Linked DNA regions of Homo sapiens: region 1 is linked to region 2. Evidence: fine-mapped expression QTL. A gene starts in region 2. The other region holds a variant in brackets. All regions are shown on one strand. Distances are between the middles of the regions. Region 1 overlaps PMM2 (phosphomannomutase 2). Region 2 holds the start of CARHSP1 (calcium regulated heat stable protein 1).

Region 1 (10,139 bases), 26 kb after region 2:
AGTGACAGTATTCTCACAGCCATCAGTTTTTTTTTTTTTTTTAGCTGTACCTACGCTTTTCTAACAAGTCACAAGGGAGCGTCAGGAGGGCAGAGGGCCGGGAGCAGGGCTGCCAGGGATATTCCTGTGATGAGGGACGTGGCGACATCAGCGGTGATGGCAGCCACTGGCCATGTGTCACTCTGCACACTTGAAACGTGGCCAATGCAATGGAGGAACTCAGTTAATTTGATTTTAATTTAAACAGCCCCACGTGGGCCGGGCATGGTGGCTCATGCCTGTAATCCCAGCACTTTGGGAGGCTGAGAAGGGTGGATCACTTGAGGTCAGGAATTTGAGACCAACCTGGCTAACACAGCAAAACTCCATTTCTACTTAAAATACAAAAATTAGCTGGGCATGGTGGCGCACGTCTGAAATCCCAGCTGCTCGGGAGGCTGAGGCAGGAGAATTGCTTGAACTCGGGAGGTGGAAGTTGCAGTAAGCCGAGATCGCACCACTGCACTCCAGCCTGGGCGACAAAGGGAGACTCTATCTTAAATAAATAAATAAATGGCCCCACATGACTGGGGTCTGAGCTGCTGGCTAAAAGCAGGGTCTCTGGAACAGGTGGCCTGGGTCAGATGCTGGTTCTACCACTGAGCAGCAGTGTGGCTGCGCCAACTCCCCATCTCCAAAATGGGGTCATGATGGAAGCTTGCTCACAGCTCTGTGGCCAGAAGTTCAGGAGATGATGGTTGGGGTCACACCTTGGTAAGATGACGAAACCGAGGCCTCAGAAAGTCTGCAAGGGCCCATGTCTAGGAGGACCTGGGCATGTTCTGCTGGGGTCCTGTGCCTGAGTTGAGTGCTCCCATCTGTGTCCCCATCACCCCCACCAATCCCACTGGGCTCACGTTAATGAATCAGGTTATCTGCCGCTCCCGCAACCCCGAGCCCTGCAGGAAAGCCCCCGTTTTTCTCATGGAATTCCTTTATTTCCCTCATAAAATTGGATAATCACTCTAACTCAAAACCTTAAAATAATCTACGATTGCTTTACAATACAATGAACACAACCGTAGAAAAAAGGGATTTTTCTCATAAAGCACCGAGCATGAAGCCAACGTGGAAACCATGATTTTGTACCAAAAATCTGACATCCTTTAAAAGAATTAATTGCCTCTGGAAATGAGTGTTTTCATTTTTGCAAGAACCTATCCCCAGGCAGATGGCCTCCTCAGGTGGAGGTGAATTTCAGGCTTCAGGAGGGAACGTCGCTGGGCCCAGGGAGTGCTGGGTGGAGTCAGGTTAGGAGGCCATGAACTTGGCATCTCTTCCAGTCCAGCCACTTGGGAACCTGTCAGGGCCTTGTACTGGCCTTACACAGTTTTGTACCAGGCCTGGGGGCCTTCAGACAGACCTGAATTGCATGGCCACCATCTGCTACCTACACATGTGAAATCAGTTCTGGTAATTCTGATTTTGCCTTTTTTTTCCTTCGGACATAGGGTCTTGCTATGTTGCCCAGGCTGGGCTCGAGCGAACCTCCTGCCTCAGCCTCTCGAGTAGCTGAGACAAAGACTGTGTCCAACAGTGCCAAGCTAGTTCCAGTAATTCTTCTAATTAAAAAAAAAAAAAAAAAGATTTCTTTCAGGAATGGCACAGTGGGTAAAAGTCACAGAGAACCTAACAAAGGCACAACCTAGCTGGGTGTGGTGGTGCGCACCTGTAATCCCAGCTGCTTGGCAGGAGAATCACTTGAACCTGGGAGGCGGAGATTGCAGTGAGCCAAGAACAGACCACTGTACTTCAGCCTGGGCAACAGAGCGAGACTCAAAAGAAAAAAAAACAAACAAAAAACCAAAGGCACAACCAACTCTCACATGCCTCAAAAGAGCCAAACACCCTCCCCGCCTCAGTGACTGAGGAGGGGAGTCAGTATTCACACATTAACACAACACACCTTTCTAGAACACCTACTGTCAGGCCTCTGAGCCCAAGCCAAGCCATCGCATCCCCTATGACTTACACGTGTACATCCAGATGGCCTGAAGTAACTAAAGATCCACAAAAGAAGTAAAAATAGCCTTAACTGATGACATTCCACCATTGTGATTTGTTTCTGCCCCACCCGAACTGATCAATGTACTTTGTAATCTCCCCCACCCTTAAGAAGGTTCTTTGAAATTCTCCCCACTCTTGAGGATGTACTTTGTGAGATCCACCCCTGCCCGCAAAACATTGCTCTTAACTTCACCGCCTATCCCAAAACCCATAAGAACTAATGATAATCCACCACCCTTTGCCGACTCTCTTTTCGGACTCAGCCCGCCTGCACCCAGGTGAAATAAACAGCCATGTTGCTCACACAAAGCCTGTTTGGTGGTCTCTTCACATGGACGCGCATGAAATTTGGTGCCGTGACTCAGATCGGGAGACCTCCCTTGGGAGATCAATCCCCTATCCTCCTGCTCTTTGCTCCATGAGAAAGATCCACCTACGACCTCAGGTCCTCAGACCCACCAGCCCAAGAAACATCTCACCAATTTCAAATCCAATAAGCAGCCTCTTTTTACTCTCTTCTCCAACCTCCCTATCCCTCACCGTCTTTCTCCTTTCAATCTAGGCGCCACACTTCAATCTCTCCCTTCTCTTAATTTCAATTCCTTTCATTTTCTGGTAGAGACAAAGGAGACGTTTTATCTGTGGACCCAAAAAACCGGCGCCGGTCACGGACTGGGAAGGCAGCCTTCCCTTGGTGTTTAATCATTGCAAGGACGCCTCTGATCATTCACCCACGTTTCAGAGGTGTCAGACCACGCAGGGACACCTGCCTTGGTCCATAACCCTTAGCGGCAAGTCCCGCTTTTCTGAGGAAGGGGCAAGGACCCCAACCCCTTCTTTCCGTGTCTCTACCCCTTCTCTGATTTTCTGGGGCAGGGGCAAGAACCCCCCAACCCCTTCTCCTTCACCCTTAGCGGCAAGTCCCGCTTTTCTGGGGGAGAGGCAAGTACCCCAAACTCGTATCTCTGTGCCCCAATCCCTTATTTCCATGCCCCAACCCCTTTCCCGCTTTTCTGGAGGGTAAGAACCCCCAAACCCCTTCCCTCCATGTCTCTACGCTCTCTTTTCTCTGGGCTTGCCTCCTTCACTATGGGCAACCTTCCTACATTCCTCCTTCTTCTCCCTTAGCCTGTGTTCTCAAGAACTTAAAACCTCTTCAACTCATACCTGACCTAAAACCTAAATAAATGCCTTATTTTCTTCTGCAATGCCGCTTGACCCCAATACAAACTCGACAGTAGTTCCAAATAGCCAGAAAACGGCACTTTCAATTTTTCCATCCTGCAAGATCTAAATAATTCTTGTCGTAAAATGGGCAAACAGTCTGAGGTGCCTGATGTCCAGGCATTCTTTTACACATCAGTCCCTTCCTAGTCTCTGTGCCCAGTGCAACTCGTCCCAAATCTTCCTTCTTTCCCTCCCGCCTGTCCCCTCAGTCCCAACCCCAAGCGTTGCTGAGTCTTTCTAATCTTCCTTTTCTACAGACCCATCTGACCTCTCCCCTCCTCGCCAGGCCGAGCTAGGTTCCAATTCTTCCTCAGCCCCTAGACCCTAAAAGGTCAAAAGGCCGTCTTATTCTCAATATACATTTTATTACCCAATCTGCTCCCGACATTAAATAAAACTCCAAAAATTAGAATCTGGCCCTCAAACTCCACAACAGGACTTAATTAACCTCACCTTCAAGGTGTACAATAATAGAAAAAAGTTGCAATTCCTTGCCTCCACTGTGAGACAAACCCCAGCCACATCTCCAGCACACAAGAACTTCCAAATGCCTGAACCGCAGCGGCCAGGCGTTCCTCCAGAACCTCCTCCCCCAGGAGCTTGCTACACGTGCCAGAAATCTGACTACCAGGGCCAAGGAATGCCTGCAGCCCAGGATTCCTCCTAAGCCGTGTCCCATCTGTGCGGGACCCCACTGGAAATCGGACTGTTCAACTCACCTGGCAGCCACTCCCAGAGCCCCTAGAACTCTGGCCCAAGGCTCTCTGACTGACTCCTTGGCTTAGCGGCTGAAGATTGACGCTGCCCAATCGCCTTGGAAGCCCCCAGACCATCACGGACGCCAAGCTTTGGGTAACTCTCACAGTGGAGGGTAAGTCCACCCACTGTTTAATCGAAACGGGGACTACCCACTCCATGTTGCCTTCTTTTCAAGGGCCTGTTTCCCTTGCCTCCATAACTGTTGTGGGTATGGACGGCCAGGCTTCTAAACCTCTTAAAACTCCCCAACTCTGGTGCCAACTTAGACATTACTCTTTGAAGCACTCATTTTTAGTTATCCC[C/T]ACCTGCCCAGTTCCCTTATTAGGCCGAGATATTTTAAGCAAATTATCTGCTTCCCTGACTATTCCTGGACTACAGCCGCATCTCATTGCCGCCCTTCTCCCCAACCCAAAGCCTCCTTTGCGTCTTCCTCTCATATCCCCCCACCTTAACCCACAAATATGGGACATTTCTACTCCTTCCCTGACAACTGATCACATGCCCATTACCATCCCATTAAAACCTAATCACCCTTACCCCGCTCAACGCCAATATCCCATCCCACAGCACGCTTTAAAAGGATTAAAGCCTGTTATCACTGGCCTGCTACAGCATAGGCTTCTAAAACCTATAAACTCTTCTTATAATCCCCCCATTTTACCTGTCCAGAAACCGGACAAGTCTTACAGATTAGTTCAGGATCTGCGCCTTATCAACCAAATTGTTTTGCCTATCCACCCTGTGGTGCCCAACCCATACACTCTTTCATCCTCAATACCTTCCTCCACAACTCACTATTCCACACTTGATCTTAAAGATGCTTCTTTCAGCGTTCCCCTGCACCCCTTGTCCCAGCCTCTCTTTGCTTTCACCTGGACTGACCCTGACACCCATCAGTCCCAGCAGCTTACCTGGGCTGTGCTGCCACAAGGTTTCAGGGACAGCCCTCATTACTTCAGCCAAGCTCTTTCTCATGATCTACTTTCTTTCCACCCCTCCGCTTCTCACCTTATTTAATATATTGATGACCTTCTTCTTTGTAGCCCCTCCTTTGAATCTTCTCAACAAGACACACTTCTGCTCCTTCAGCATTTACTCTCCAAAGGATATCAGGTATCCCCCTCCAAAGCTCAAATTTCATCCTCATCTGTTACCTATCTCGGCATAATTCTCATAAAAACACACGTGCTCTGCCTGTTGATCTTGTCTGATTAATCTCCCAAACCTCAATCCCTTCCAAAACAACAACTCCCTTCCTTCCTAGGCATGGTTAGTGCGGTCAGAATTCTTACACAACAGCCAGGACCACACCCTGTAGCCTTTCTGTCCAAACAACTTGACCTTACTGTTTTAGCCTAGCCCTCATGTCTGCGTGCAGCGGCTGCCGCTGCTTTAATACTTTTAGAGGCCGTAAAAATCACAAACTATGCTCAACTCACTCTCTACATTTCTCATAACTTCCAAAATCCATTTTCTTCCTCATACCTGATGCATATACTTTCTGCTCCCCGGCTCCTTCAGCTGTACTCACTCTTTGTTAAGTCCCACAATTACCATTGTTCCTGGCCCGGACCTCAATCTGGCCTCCCACATTATTCCTGATACCACACCTGACCCCCATGACTGTGTTTCTCTGATCCACCTGACATTCACCCCATTTCCCCATATTTCCTTCTTTCCTGTTCCTCACCCTGATCACGCTTGATTTATTGATGGCGGTTCCACCAGGCCTAATCGCCACATAGCAGCAAAGGCAGGCTATGCTATAGTACAAGCCACTAGCCCGCCTCTTAGAACCTCTCATTTCCTTTCCATCGTGGAAATCTATCCTCAAGGAAATAACTTCTCAGTGTTCCATCTGCTATTCTACTACTCCTCAGGGATTATTCAGGCCCCTTCCCTTCCCTACACATCAAGCTTGAAGATTTGCCCCCACCCAGGACTGGCAAATTAGCTTCACTCAACATGCCCCGAGTCAGATAACTAAAATACCTCTTAGTCTAAGTAGACACTTTCACTAGATAAGTAGAGGCCTTTCCTACAGGGTCTGAGAAGGCCACCGCAGTCATTTCTTCCCTTCTGTCAGACATAATTCCTCAGTTTAGCCTTCCCACCTCTATACAGTCTGATAACGGACCAGCCTTTACTAGTCAAATCACCCAAGCAGTTTCTCAGGCTCTTAGTATTCAGTGGAACCTTCATATCCCTTACAGTCCTCAATCTTCAGGAAAGGTAGAACGGACTAATGGTCTTTTAAAGGTACACATCACCAAGCTCAGCCTCCAACTTAAAAAGGATTGGACAGTACTTTTACTTCTTGCTCTTCTCAGAATTAGAGCCTGTTCTCGAGATGCTACAGGGTAGGTACAGTCCATTTGAACTTTTATATGGACGCACTTTCTTGCTTGGCCCCAACCTCATCCCAGACACCAGCCCTCTAGGCGACTGTCTTCCAGTCCTCCAGCAGGCTAGACAGGAAATTCGCCAGGCTGCTAAGCTTCTCTTGCCTACTCCAGATCCCCAGCCATATGAAGACACCCTAGCTGGACGATCAGTTCTTGTTAATCTGACTCCTCAAACTCTACAACCTCGATGGACCGGACCCTACTTAGTCATCTATAGTACCCCGACTGCTGTCCGCCTGCAGGATCCTCCCCACTAGGCTCACCGTTCCAGAATAAAGCTGTGTCCATCGGACAGCCAGCCTAATCCCTCCTCTTCCTCCTGGAAGTTGCAAGTACTCTCCCCTACTTCCCTTAAACTCAGTCGTATTTCGAAGAACAGTCATAACCCTTATGAGCCTAATACATCCCTTCATTCTATTAGGTTTTTCGTCCTTACCCTACTTTTTGCAACAGGGCTTTACGAAGTCACCCCCACCACTTAGGCCGAGCCCCAAAAAACTAGTCATCCCTACTATCTTCTGTCTGGTCATACTCCTATTCTCCATTCTCAACTACTTATAAATGCCCTACTCTTGTTTACACGGCCGGTTTACACTGTTTCTTCAAGCCATCACAGCTGATATCTCTTGGTGCTATCCCCAAACTGCCACTCTTAACTCCCTCTTAGAGTGGATAGATGATCTTTGCTGGCAAGGCACCCTCCAATATTTCCACCCTGATGAAGTTCTATTCTTTACTTTTATACTCACTCTTATTCTCATTCCCATTCTTATGCCACCCTCTACCTCTCCCCAGCTATCTCCACCACACTATCAACCTTACCCATTCTCTCCTAGCCGCTTCTAATCCCTCCTTAGTGAACAACTGCTGGCTTTGCATTTCCCTTTCTTCCAGTGCCTACACAGCTGTCCCCACCTTACAGACAGACTGGGCAACATCTCCCATCTCCCTACACCTCCGAACTTCCTGTAACAGCCCTCACCTTTACCCTCCTGAAGAACTCATTTACTTTCTAGACAGGTCCAGCAAGACTTCCCCAGACATTTCACATCAGCAAGCTGCCGCCCTCCTTCACACTTATTTAAAAAACCTTTCTCCTTTCTCCTTTCTCCCCCCATATTCGGACCTCTCACAACACAAACTACTATGCCTGTGGCCGCTCCTATATGTATCTCTCGGCAAAGACCCACTGGAATTCCCCTAGGTAATCTTTCACCTTCTCGATGTTCCTTTACTCTTCATCTCCAAAGTCCAACTACACACATCACTCAAACAATGGGAGCCTTCCAGCTCCATATTACAGACAAGCCCGCTATCAATACTGACAAACTTAAAAACATTAGCAGTAATTATTGCTTAGGAAGACACTTGCCCTGTATTTCACTCCATCCTTGGCTACTTTCCCCTTGCTCATCAGACTCTTCCTCCCAGGCCCTCCTCTTGTTTACTTTTACCCAGCCCCGAAAATAATAGTGAAAGGTTGCTTGTAGATACTCAACGTTTTCTCATACACCATGAAAATCGAACCTCCCCCTCTATGCAGTTACCCCATCAGTCCCCATTACAACCTCTGACAGCTGCCGCCCTAGCTGGATCCCTAGGACTCTAGGTACAAGACACCCCTTGCAGCACTCCTCATCTTTTTACTTTACATCTCCAGTTTTGCCTCGCACAAGGTCTCTTCTTCCTCTGTGGATCCTTTACCTAACATGTGTCTACCTGCTAATTGGACAGGCACATGCACACTAGTCTTCCTTACTCCCAAAATTCAATTTGCAAATAGGAACGAAGAGCTCCCTGTTCCCCTCATGACACCGACACAACAAAGAAGAGTCATTCCACTAATTCCCTTGATGGTCGGTTTAGGACTTTCTGCCTCCACTATTGCTCTCGGTACTGGAATAGCAGGCATTTCAACCTCTGTCATGACCTTCCGTAGCCTGTCTAATGACTTCTCTGCTAGCATCACAGACATGTCACAAACTTTATCAGTCCTCCAGGCCCAAGTTGACTCTTTAGCTGCAGTTGTCCTCCAAAACCACCGAGGCCTTGCTTACTCACTGTTGAAAAAAGAGGACTCTGCATATTCTTAAATGAAGAGTGTTGTTTTTACCTAAATCAATCTGGCCTGATGTATGACAACATAAAAAAACTCAAGCATAGAGCCCAAAAACTTGCCAACCAAGCAAGTAATTACGCTGAACCCCCTTACGCACTCTCTAATTGGATGTCCTAGGTCCTCCCAATTCTTAGTCCTTTAATACCCATTTTTCTCCTTCTTTTATTTGGACCTTGGATCTTCTGTTTAGTTTCTCAATTCATCCAAAACTGTATCCAGACCATCACCAATCATTCTATACAACAAATGTTTCTTCTAACATCCCCACAATATCACCCCTTACCACAAGACCTCCCTTCAGCTTAATCTCTCCCACTCTAGGTTCCCACGCCGCCCCTAATCCCGCTTGAAGCAGCCCTGAGAAACATCGCCCATTCTGTCTCCATACCACCCCCCAAAAATTTTCACCGCCCCAATACTTCAACACTATTTTATTTTTCTTATTAACATAAGAAGGCAGGAATGTCAGGCCTCTGAGCCCAAGCCAAGCCATCGCATCCCCTATGACTTGCACGTATACATCCAGATGGCCTGAAGTAAATGAAGATCCACAAAAGAAGTAAAAATAGCCTTAGCTGATGACATTCCACCATTGTGATTTGTTTCTGCCCCACCCGAACTGATCAATGTACTTTGTAATCTCCCCCACCCTTAAGAAGGTTCTTTGTAATTCTCCCCACTCTTGAGAATGTACTTTGTGAGATCCACTCCTGCCCACAAAACATTGCTCTTAACTTCACCGCCTATCCCAAAACCCATAAGAACTAATGATAATCCACCACCCTTTGCTGACTCTCTTTTCGGACTCAGCCCGCCTGCACCCAGGTGAAATAAACAGCCATGTTGCTCACACAAAGCCTGTTTGGTGGTCTCTTCACACGGACGCGCATGAAACACTTCAATCTCTCCCTTAATTTCAATTCCTTTCATTTTCTGGTAGAGACAAAGGAGACACATTTTATCTGTGGACTCAAAACTCCGGCGCCGGTCAGAGACTGGGAAGGCAGCCTTCCCTTGGTGTTTAATCACTGCAGGGACGCCTGATTATTTACCCACGTTTCAAAGGTGTCAGACCATGCAGGGACGCCTGCCTTGGTCCTTCACCCTTAGCGGCAAGTCCCACTTTTCTGGCGGAGAGGCAAGTACACCAACCCCTTCTCTCCGTGTCTCTACCCCTTCTCTGCTTTTCTAGGGGAGGGGTAAGTACCCCAACCCCATGTATCTCTGCGCCCCGATCCCTTATTTCTGCGCCCCAATCTCTTATATCTCTGTGCCCCAATCCCTTATTTCCGTGCCCCAACCCCTTCTCTGCTTTTCTGGAGGGCAAGAACCCCCCACCCCTTCTCCGTGTCTCTACTCTTTTCTCTGGGCTTACCTCCTTCACTATGGGCAAGCTTCCACCTTCCATTCCTTTCTTCTCCCTTAGCCTGTGTTCTTAAGAACTTAAAACCTCTTCAACTCACACCTGACCTAAAACCTAAATAAATGCCTTATTTTCTTCTGCAATTCCACTTGACCCCAATACAAACTCGACAGTAGTTCCAAATAGCCAGAAAACGGCACTTTCAGTTTTTCCATCCTAC
Region 2 (10,290 bases):
TGGCTTGAGCCTAGGAGGTGGAGGTTGCAATGAGCCAAGGTCGCACCACTGCACTCCAGCCTGGGTGACAGAATGAGACTCCATGTCAACAACAACAGCAACAACAACAAAAGACTATACACTTTAAATGTGTGCATTTAATTGGATGTCAGTTATATCTCAATAAAGCTGTTGGAAAACAGGATTTTTCAGGGAGTGAAAGAACTCTGTATGACACTGTAATGGGAGATCCATGCCATTATACATTTGTTCAAACAAATAGAACGTACAGCTCCAGGAGTGACCCGCATTTAAACCACGGATTCTGGGCGATGACGTGTCAGTGTAGGTTCACCCACTGTAACAAATGTACCACTCGGGCGTGTGATGTGGATAGCGAGGGGGTGCTGTGCGTGTGTGCTGGTCAGGAGTGTTTGGAAAATCCCTGTATTTTCTGCTCAGCATTTTTTTTTTTTTTTAGATGGAGTTTCGCTCTTGTTGCCCAGGCTGGTGCGCAATGGTGCGATCTCAACTCACGGCAACCTCCACCTCCCGGTTGATTCTCCTGCCTCAGCCTCCCGTGTAGCTGGGATTACAGGCAAGCACCACCATGCCCAGCTAATTTTGTAGTTTGTCAGAGACTGGGTTTCTCCATGTTGCTCAGGCTGGTGTCAAACTCCCGACCTCAGGTGATCCGCCTGCCTCAGCCTCCCAAAGTGCTGGGATTACAGGTGTGAGCCACCACGCCTGGTCAGTTTTTTTGTTTTGTTTTGTTTTGTTTTGAGACGGGATTTCTCACTGTATTGCCAGACTGGAGTGCAGTGGTGCAATCATGGCTCATTGCAGCCTCGACTTACTGGGCTCAATGTATCCTCCTGCCTCAGCCTCCCAAGTAGTTGGGACCAGAGGCATGTGCCACCACATCCAGCTATTTTTTTTTTTTTTGAGATGGAGACTCACTCTGGTGCCCAGGCTGGAGTGCAGTGGCGCGATCTCGGTTCACTGCAACCTCTGCCTCCTGGGTTCAAGCAATTCTGCAGCCTCAGGTTCCTGAGTAGCTGGGATTACAGGCGCTACCACCACGCCCAGCTAATTTTTGTTATTTTAGTAAAGACAGGGTTCCACCATGCTGGCCAGGCTGGTCTCAAATCCTGACCTCTGGTGATCCTCCCAAAGTGCCGGGATTACAGGTGTGAGCCACTAGGCCCAGCCCTTTCTGCTCAATTTTGCTGTAAACCTAAACTGCCCTAAAAAGCAAAGTCCGTGTTTGTTTGTTTGTTTACAGACAGGGCCTCCCTCTGTTGCCCAGGAGTGCAGTGGCATGATCATAGCTCACTGTAACTTCTGACACCTGCGCTCACATGATGTGCCTGCCTCAGACTCCCAAAGTGTTGGGATTATAGGCATGAGCCACTGTGCCCAGCCCTTTTTCTTTTTTCTTTCTTTCTCTCTCTCTCACTCCTCCCTCCCTCCCTTTCTTTCTTCCTCTTTTTTTAATTTTAGAAATAAAATATGCTATGTTGCCCAGGCTTGTCTTGAACTCCTGGCTTCTAGGCATCCTCCTGTCTTGGGCTCCCAAGTAGCTGGGATTATGGGCATGAGCCACAGCACCTGGCCGTGGATGAATTTTCATAAAGTGAACCCACCCAGGTACCCAGACTGAGGGACAGAAGTTTACCAGATCCTAGAATCCCACCTTGTGCCCCTCCTGGTCATGGCCTCCCCCCACCCCCACCCCAGTGTCCCCGCTTGTTTATTTGTTTATTTATTTATTTATTGAGGTGGAGTCTGGCTCTGTCGCCCAGGCTGGACTGCAGTGGCACAATCTCGGCTCACTGCAACTTCCACTTCTCAGGTTCAAGCAATTTTCATGCCTCAGCCTCCCGAGTAGCTGGGATAACAGGTGTGCACCATCATACCGGGATAAGTTTTGTATTTTTAGTAGAGACAGGGTTTCACCATGTTGGCTGGGCTGGTTGTGAACTCCTGAGCTCAAGTGATCCGCCCTCCCAGGCCTCCCAAAGTACTGGGGTTACAGGCATGAGCCACTGTGCCTGGCCTTGACTTTTTAAAAACAGCTTAACTGAGTCATAATTCACACACCATACAGTTCACCCATTGAAAGCACACAATGCAATGATTTTTAGTATATCCACGGACTTGTGCAACTATCGCCACCATCACTTTCAGCACATTTTCATCATCTCAAAAAGAAACCCCTGTACCTTTTAAGTATCAACCGTCTAGCCCGCACCCCCACCCCCAGCCTCTGGCAACCCTTAATCTACTTCCTGTTTCTAGAGATTTGCCCATTCAGAACATTTCATACAGATGGAATCACACAAAGTGCGGCCTTTGTGTGGCTTCTTTCTCTTAGCATATTTTCAAGGTTCCTCTATGTTGTAGCTTGCATCAAGATTTCATTCCTGTTGATGAGTGAATAGTTGTCTACTGTATAGATACACAACATTTTGTTTATCCTTTCATCACTTGATGGACATCTGAGCTGTTTCTCCCTTTTGGCTACTATGAGTAATACTGCTATAAATCTTACTCTGTCACCCAGGCTGGAGTGCAGCAGTGCAGTCACGGATCACAGCAGCCTCGATCTCCTGGGCTCAAGGGATCCTCCCACCTCAGCCTCCCCAGTAGCTGGGACTACAGGTGGGTGCTACTACTCCTGGCTAATTAAAACTTTTTTTTTTTTGGTAAAGAAGGGGTCTTACTATGTTGTCCAGGCTGGTCATAAACTCCTGGGCTTAAGAGATCCTCCTGTCTCGGTCTCCCAAAGTGCTGGGATTACAGGCGTGAGCCACCACGCCCAGCCCAACAAGTAAATCATTATTTATCTATTTATTTATTTTTGAGATGGAGTCTTGCTCTGTCGCCCAGGCAGGCTGGAGTGCAGTGGCACTATCTCGGCTCATTGCAAGCTCCGCCTCCCGGGTTCACGCCATTCTCCTGCCTCAGCCTCCCGAGTAGCTGGGACTACAGGGGCCCGCCACCGCGCCCGGCTAATTTTTAATATTTTTAATAGAGACGGGGTTTCCCCGTGGTCTCGTTCTCCTGACCTCGTGATCCGCCCGCCTCGGCCTCCCAAAGTGCTGGGATTACAGGCGTGAGCCACCGCGCCCGGCCTATTTATTTATTTTTAACTTTTTTTCCCCCCCGAGACGGAGACTCGCTGTCGCCCAGGCTGGAGTGCAGTGGCATGATCCTGGCTCACTGCAACCTCCACCTCCCGGGTTCAAGTGATTCTCCTGCCTCAGTCTCCCAAGTAACTGGGATTACAGGCACCCGCCACCAAGCCCGGCAAATTTTTGTATTTTTCATAGACACGGGGTTTCGCCATGTTGGCCAGGCTGGTCTCCAACTCCTGAGCTCAAGTGATCCTCCTGCCTCGGCCTCCCAAAGAGCTGGAATTACAGGCGTGAGCCACCGCACCCGGCCTCAAGTAAATTTTTGTGTGGACAAACATTTTTATTTCTCTTGGGCGCGCAGACACCTAGGAGTGGAGTTGATGGGTTTTATGGAGACTCCAGGGCTCGTGGTTTGAGGAACCGCCGGGCTTTTTCCACAGCAGCTGCGCGGTTGTTCCCACCAGCCGTCTAGGACGGTTCCTTGCCTGGCTTGGACTAGTTGGTTTCGCTGCTGGGCCTTTTCCCCAGTGGCCCCAATAGGGGCTGCAGAGTGAGGCAGGCACAGTCCTCACCGCCGCCTCCGGGGGCCCTGTTGTCCCGGGCGAGCTCCGGGGACCTCTCTCCTTCCCCGCGCCCCTCAAATACCAAGCTGACCCTGGTCCCGGGATCTAGGCTCGCCTTCAGGGGCTGCTCTCGACTGGCCGTGCCCATGGGCTGGTCGCCTCTCTGTGCCTCAGTTTCCTCTCCTGCAAAACAGAGGTAACATTTTTTACCTCCAAAAACAGAGGACTCAAGGAAGGCTAGAAATGAAACAAGAGAAGAGAACAAAATCAAAATCCCCAACGAGAAAACAAAACCCTGTTTTTCTGGTGTGTGTGTGCGTGTGTATTTTTTCTTTCCCTTTTCCTCCTTTCTGTTTTTTGCTTGTTTTCTTCCGTCTCTCTTTTCATTCCTTTATTTCCTTTCTGCTAAAAGTGACACCCTCCGGGATTATACAGATTTTAGAGCCAAAGGCAGGTGGGAGCCGCACCTGGCGCGCGTGGCGAGGGGAAGGAACTGCACGGGCGCAGGGACACAGTTCCCCCACTTTGCAGGGGCGTTTTCTGCTGGTGGGTGCAGCCCAGCTCCGCCCCGCCCCGCCCCGCCCCGGCCCCTACGTCCCGCGCTCTGCGTTCCGCTCTCCCGCCAGTCTAAGGCGCGGACACAAAGGTCCTGTCCGGGCCACTCCCGCCCCGCCCGCCCCCACCGTCCCGGGCTCCCTCCCGCAGCCCCATTGGCCGGGAGCTCCTGGGGGCGGGGATCGGCGCCCCACCCCCCCTCGGGCCACGCCCCCTCCCCAGCTCCGCGCTCTCAGTCGGAGCGAAGCGGCTGGCGGAGCAGAACGGATTGCAGGGTAGGGAGCTCTTCTCGGGGACCCCAGGATAGGCGCCCCTGGCCCGCGGCCCCGGGAGCCGCAGGGGTGGGGCCTCGGCCTCCTCTGCCTCCATCGTCCCCCATCCTGCAGGGTCTTCTAGCTCGGCAGAGGAGGGCTCCGGGCTGGGTTTCTCGGGGCCTGTTTGGGGAACGCGGGTTGCTCCTCCCCAGGGGAAGGGGTGGGTGTGGCAACAGCGGCAAGGATTCTAGGCGGACGTCGGGTAGTACTTCCCGCCTGGCCACCTGTTCTCTGCGTGCAGGGGAAGCTCTTCCCGCCCTCCCCGCTGCTTTTGCCTTTGGGCGGGAGCCCTGGACGGGGGACTCGCCGGGCGGTGGGGCGAGGCGCGGGGGGCGTCGCACGCGGGAAGCAGAGCCACCCCCCGCCGGGCCTGGCCGCGCCAGCTGTGGCTCGAGGTTGGGACGGCGGCCAGGCCCGGCGGGGGAGGTGGGGAGCCGTCCTGGCGCCGCGCGATTAGCCGCATCTGGGGGAGGAGGAGCCGCCGGGCGCGCTGGGCCCGGGTGTTTGCGCCCGGATGGGGGTGGGGGTGCCTTAGGCGCTGGAGAAAAACTTCACCCGCGCCCACAGGCCCCCTTTCCGCAGGCTGCGCTGGCGGTTCAGGTTTGCAGGCCGGAAGTGAAATGTTCTTTTTTGATTTTTAAAAAGGAAGCCTCCGGCCCTATGGTTTTCTGGGGTTGGAGTGGATGTGTGTGCTGGGGGAGGCGGAGACGTCCCGCTCCAGGCAGGGCCTTGGGTCTTAATAGGTGGGGAAATCTCTGCCAAATAGGAGGCCTCTCGGAGCCTCAGTTTCCCCATCTGCAGACTGGGCTCTGACTTCTTCTGGCATGAGAGGGTGTGTGAGAGTAAAAGGAGGCAGCTAGCCCCGTGCCGGGAGACACGTAAGCTACTGTTTTTTAACTTGCTGTTTTGATATTTCTCAGTCTCTCTGTGCCCAGTCTTGCTTGCCCCTGTCATTTGCTGCCACTCTGAAGCCAGAGGGAACTTAGAAAAACAATCCGCTTAGATCTACCCCACGCTGAAAATCGTCCACCGAAGTCCCATTGTCGTCTAAGTCCCCAACTTCTCAGCAGGGCTTCCTGTTATCTTCCGCCACTACCTTCTCCAGCCTCTCTCTGCCTCTGTTCTCCCTCCCTTCGGGCCTTTGGCCCTCCTCTGGGCTCGGGGTCCTCCTTGGAGACCCCACCGCCCTCTGCACTCCCTGGGTGGCCTCGGTGATGACCGTGAGTTCTCGATGCTGGTCCCTTCAGGGCAAGAAAGAGGCGCAGAGCCCGGCTGGGAGTAGATGTTTTCAATGAGCTGAGCTAGGCCTGGCGTGGGGCCATGGGGTGGGGTTGAGGGTGGTTGACGGTGGGTCCCCTAGGTAGGGGATCGGTCTTTGTTCCACCGAGTGGCAAAGCCAGCGCATTTGGTTTGTGTTCCATCAGCAGGGGCAGGAATGGGAGGGAAGGTGATTTCAGATGGGCCCGTGCCTGACACTTCCACCATCAGCCGCACTATTGTGGACTGAGCCCGCCGTGCGCTTGGCATTTTCGCGGCACCATCTGCACAGCGTCCGAGCCCTGCGACGCAGCACCGCTCCTGTCCCCTTTGACAGATGAGGAAACTCGGGTGGGGCGGTGAAATCGCCTGGCAGGGGTCACAGAGGGAGTGGGGACCAGTCAGGGCTCAATCTCAGGTCTGAGCCAAAGCCCCCCGAGAATGGAGGGAAGGATGGAGGGATTGAGTGGGGGAGGCGTGTAGAGTAGGGTTCTTGTTGAGAAGGAGGGCTTGGGCTTCCCGCAGGAGGGGCAGTCCAGGCTGAGAACTGGGGCGGGCGCAGGGTCCCAGGTGGGTGGTGGCGGTGGGGTGACCGTCTCCCTGCTGGGTGGGGTCGCCCGTCCGGTCGAGGCCGTCCAGGGGTGCTAATGGGGGCACAGGCAATGGCAATGTTGGAGGCCCCCTTGGGTTCCCGGTACACTCCTCGGGTTTCCGGCCTCTTCCCAGCACTCAGGGGCTCCTGAGGGCGGAAGAGCTATTCCCAGCTTGGCGGGGCCTGGGAGGGGGCTCTGGGCAGACGTAGGCGCCGGGCTGCACCTTCCCTGCCCGCCTGTTTGCACTTCTCTGTGACTGTTGGCTTCAGGTCCTTAGCCAGCGGAGGGCTGACTCCGGCCTGGCTGCCCCCTCCCCTTTGCCTCCCGTCCCTCCCCCTGGACACTCCAACCCCCATCCCTTCGTGTCCCTCCCCCTCCTCTCTCTCTGCTCCTCCCTCGCCAGACCCCCCGCTCTCCCCGGAACAATGGAGGGGAATGTGGCTAGGCCAGCCTGACGCTGCTGCGTCAACCTCTGGCTCGTTCTCGGCCTCTATCGCTTCCAGGGACCCTTCTATCTGGGCTCAGCTGACCCGCCCCGCCTCTCGGCCCACGTGCCGGCAGTTCTCCCAGGCTGGGGCTCAGCTGCGCTGGAGACTGGGATGGGTCAGCTCAGTGTCTCTGTCTGTTTACAAAGGAGGAACCCAGGTGCACTAAGGTAACTTCGCTACTCTGCTAGAGTCTCACCCCGATCCCTGCGCCATTTCCCTTCCACCTCCTGCACTGTTAAGCCTTGGGCTGTGAGATGGGCCAGTGTAGCCCGGCTACTGCCGTGTTCCCTGGGTCAGGGACAGCTGCCTCACTGGGAGCGCCTTAGAAATGTAGAATCTTGGCCAGGAATCTGGAGCCTGTAATCCCAGCACTTTGGGAGGCCGGGGTGGGAGAATCTCTTGAGCCTGGGAGGTCGAGACCAGCCTGGACAACACAGTGAGACCTTGTCTCTACAAAAAATAAAAAAATTAGCTGGGTGTGGTAGCACACGCCTGTAGTCCCAGCTACTTGGGAGGCTGAAGTGAGAGGATCCCTTGAGCCCAGGAGGTTGAGGCTGCAGTGAGCCATGATTGTGCCACCAAACTCCAGCCTGGGTAACAAAGCAAGACCCTGTCTCAAAAAAAATAAAAAAGAAATGAAGAATCTCAGGCCCCACCCCACACCTGCTGAATGGCAATCTGCATTTGAACAAGATCCCCAGAGATTCCTGACTGCATTAAAGTAGGAAGTAGAATCACTGGCTTAACTCTGTGCCTTAGTTTCCTCATCTGTAAAACAGGGCTGCTAAAAGTGCCTCCCCTGTTGGGTCGATGTTTACGTGCATGTAGTTGATGTTTGTAATCCCCCAACAGGGCCTGACGCAGAAGTCTGTGGACAGTGGCTGTAGGGTGTATGAAAGCACTACAGCCTGCCCCATCCCCATAGTGCGGGCCACTACCCACCACACCTGCCAGCAGTGGGCTGGCTCCGGGCTGGAAGCTGCCCCAACACCATGCCCAACCCTGGCCTTCCCCAGCCAGCATCCCATGGAAGGCTCAAGACACCCTCATTTTGCAGAGCAGGCTTGGAGAGGTTCTCGCTTTGCCAAGAGTGAGGTGTCTGACTTGAACTCTTATCCCCCTGCCTTCTATCATCCTGTCTTCAATAAAGGGGCTGAAGCTATTAAGAATGGAATCTCTGGCTGGGCACGGTGGCTCATGCCTGTAATCCGAGGACTTTGGGAGGCTGAAGCGGGTAAATCATGAGAGGTCAGGAGTCCGAGACCAGATTGGCTAAAATGGTGAAACCCCGTCTCTACTAAAAATACAACAATTGGCTGGGTGTGGTGGTACATGCCTGTAGTCCCAGCTACTCGGGAGGCTAAGGCAGGAGAATCGCTTGAACCTGGGGGGCGGGGGTCTGCAGTGAGCTGAGATTGTGCCACTGCACTCCATCCTGGGCAACAGAGGGAGATTCTGTCTCACAAAAACAAAAATGAATGGAGTCTCCTTCAATGAGCTCCCTCTTACTAGAGTGTAAATGGCTGATAGCACTGCTAAAGCCCTCCTTGCAGTAAGCACAGGGCTGCTTGGCTCCCATTGATGTGGGTGGTGGGTTTTCAGGCCAGGAGGGCAGGAAGTTGGGGAGTGGGTAATGGGGGCTGCATGATTGGGCCGTAAGTCTCCAGACATGCGGGCAGGCTGAGCAGGGGCTGGGAAAGCCAGAGTCTTGGTACCCAGCTGAACTCCAGAACCTTCCAGGAGGAGCTGCAGAGCCTACGGAAAATTCCCAGGCTATTTTCGGCCGAGGCCCCCTTCTCCCAGCCGACACACCCATCCCTGGGGCAGTCAGGGTGGGCGTGGCTTCCTGCCCCCACCACCCTGGGCTCCCTCCCTTGGCCGGGCACTCATCAGAGCCTGGGGGCTGACTGGGGAAGGGGGTGCATGGCCAGCTGGGCACCTCCTGGTGCAGCCTCTCCCCCTTACCCTGCTGGCTTTTTCTCCGTAGCATTTCTGCTGTCTGACTTACTCCGTATTTCACCAGGGTCTTTGTTAGCCGGGCGACCCTGGGCAAGTTACTTGACTCTTTGTGTCTCCGTTCTCCCATTAGTGAAATGGGGATAGAATGAGCTGGGCTGTGTGAAGTGTTGTAAAGTAGTAAGCAGAATGGCCCCAGGACACTGCTGTGGTGGTGGTAGTCATGGTCTGTCCCACTCCCTTATCTGTTGGTTCAATAGGAAGTGGCAGAGTTCATCAAGGTCCCCTGTGGCAGCACAGGTGCCCAGCGTGCTGTGCGGTGAGGTGAGGCTCCCCGCTCCATGGACGTGTGCATACAGACGGCAACAAGTTCACGCATGCATACACGTGTATGCGCTCAGATGCAGAGACAGCCATGTGTGGGCACATATGTATGTGTACACATGCGTATATACACAGCACACACATACACATGTGCATACACCTACATACCTGTGCACAAACGAGCACACATGTACATGCAGCCTGGCAGTCATGACACCTTGGTCGTGACATTTGGTCGAAGTTTGTTGCAGGCCAGAAGCTCATCTGAGTGGCGGATCTGTTTGCAGCCTTCCTCCCTCCCCCAGCTGTGGGGAGCTGAAGGCTAGTCACAGAGGGCAGGCCCTGTCTTCTGCTGGGGACACTCCAAGGCCATGCCTGGTATTGCTGGGAGAGCAGTGGCTGGCTGGAAGCTGGGACTGTGCTGGTGGGCGGGGCTGCTGTGTGGCCCCATCCTTGTGTATGTGTGTATTGTGGAGGGGACACAGCAGAGGCTGGCCAGGGCCTCAGAGCTGGCTTCTGGGTGCCTGGTTACCCGCCCCCCAGTTGTTTTCTTTCCAGCTGGACTTTGCCCGGCCCTCCCCCGCACTGAGGCCATTCACTCCTCTCTGCTGGGCCTACTGGGGAGTGAGTGGCCCTTGGCCAGGCCTACTCTGGCCACCCCAGCTTGGCTTCAGCCCAGATGGGCCATGAGAGGCTGGATAAAGCTCCTGGGTCTCCCAGTTGGCACTGCCCCCGCCCCTAGTCACGTCTGCTCCGTGCCTCAGTTTCTTCCACTATCAGGTGAGCAGGAATGTAGCCACCTCCTGCTGGGCTGGGCATGGTGCTGAGTGCACACCAATGCAGTGGCAGCCAGCTGGGGCTTTGGGTCCTAATGCTGGCAAAGAATGAGGCTTGGAAGCTGGGTGTGGTGGCTCACGCCTGTAATCCCAGCACTTTGGGAAGCCAAGGTGCGCCGATCGCTTGAGCCCAGGAGTTTAAGACCAGCCTGGGCAACATATTGAAACCCTGTCTCTACAAAAAATGAGCTGGTTGTGGTGGCACGTGGCCGTAGTCCCACAACCCAGGAGGCTGGGGTGGGCGGATCACCTGAGCCCAGGAGGTTGAGAGGCTTCAGTGAGCCA

The links.
Region 1: its variant is fine-mapped to the expression of CARHSP1 in lung (TOPMed, PIP above 0.99).

What each region holds. Positions count from the first base shown.
Region 1 is chr16:8,837,281-8,847,419 of GRCh38, reverse strand. The region is part of intron 7 of PMM2 (phosphomannomutase 2); the gene reads right to left. Among named protein-coding and RNA genes, the nearest start is that of CARHSP1, 27 kb to the left of the region's middle. RefSeq lists an enhancer at 339-930. The variant C/T (reference allele first, on the strand shown) is at 4,335.
Region 2 is chr16:8,863,188-8,873,477 of GRCh38, reverse strand. CARHSP1 (calcium regulated heat stable protein 1) reads left to right here and starts at 4,472. Exons shown (of 4, transcript NM_014316.4): 1 at 4,472-4,512. It overlaps CARHSP1-DT (CARHSP1 divergent transcript), which reads right to left and starts at 4,197. Exons shown (of 2, transcript NR_186721.1): 1 at 4,150-4,197; 2 at 3,439-3,865. RefSeq lists a silencer at 4,150-5,109 and enhancers at 5,250-5,309, 6,315-6,954, 6,955-7,592, 9,092-9,251.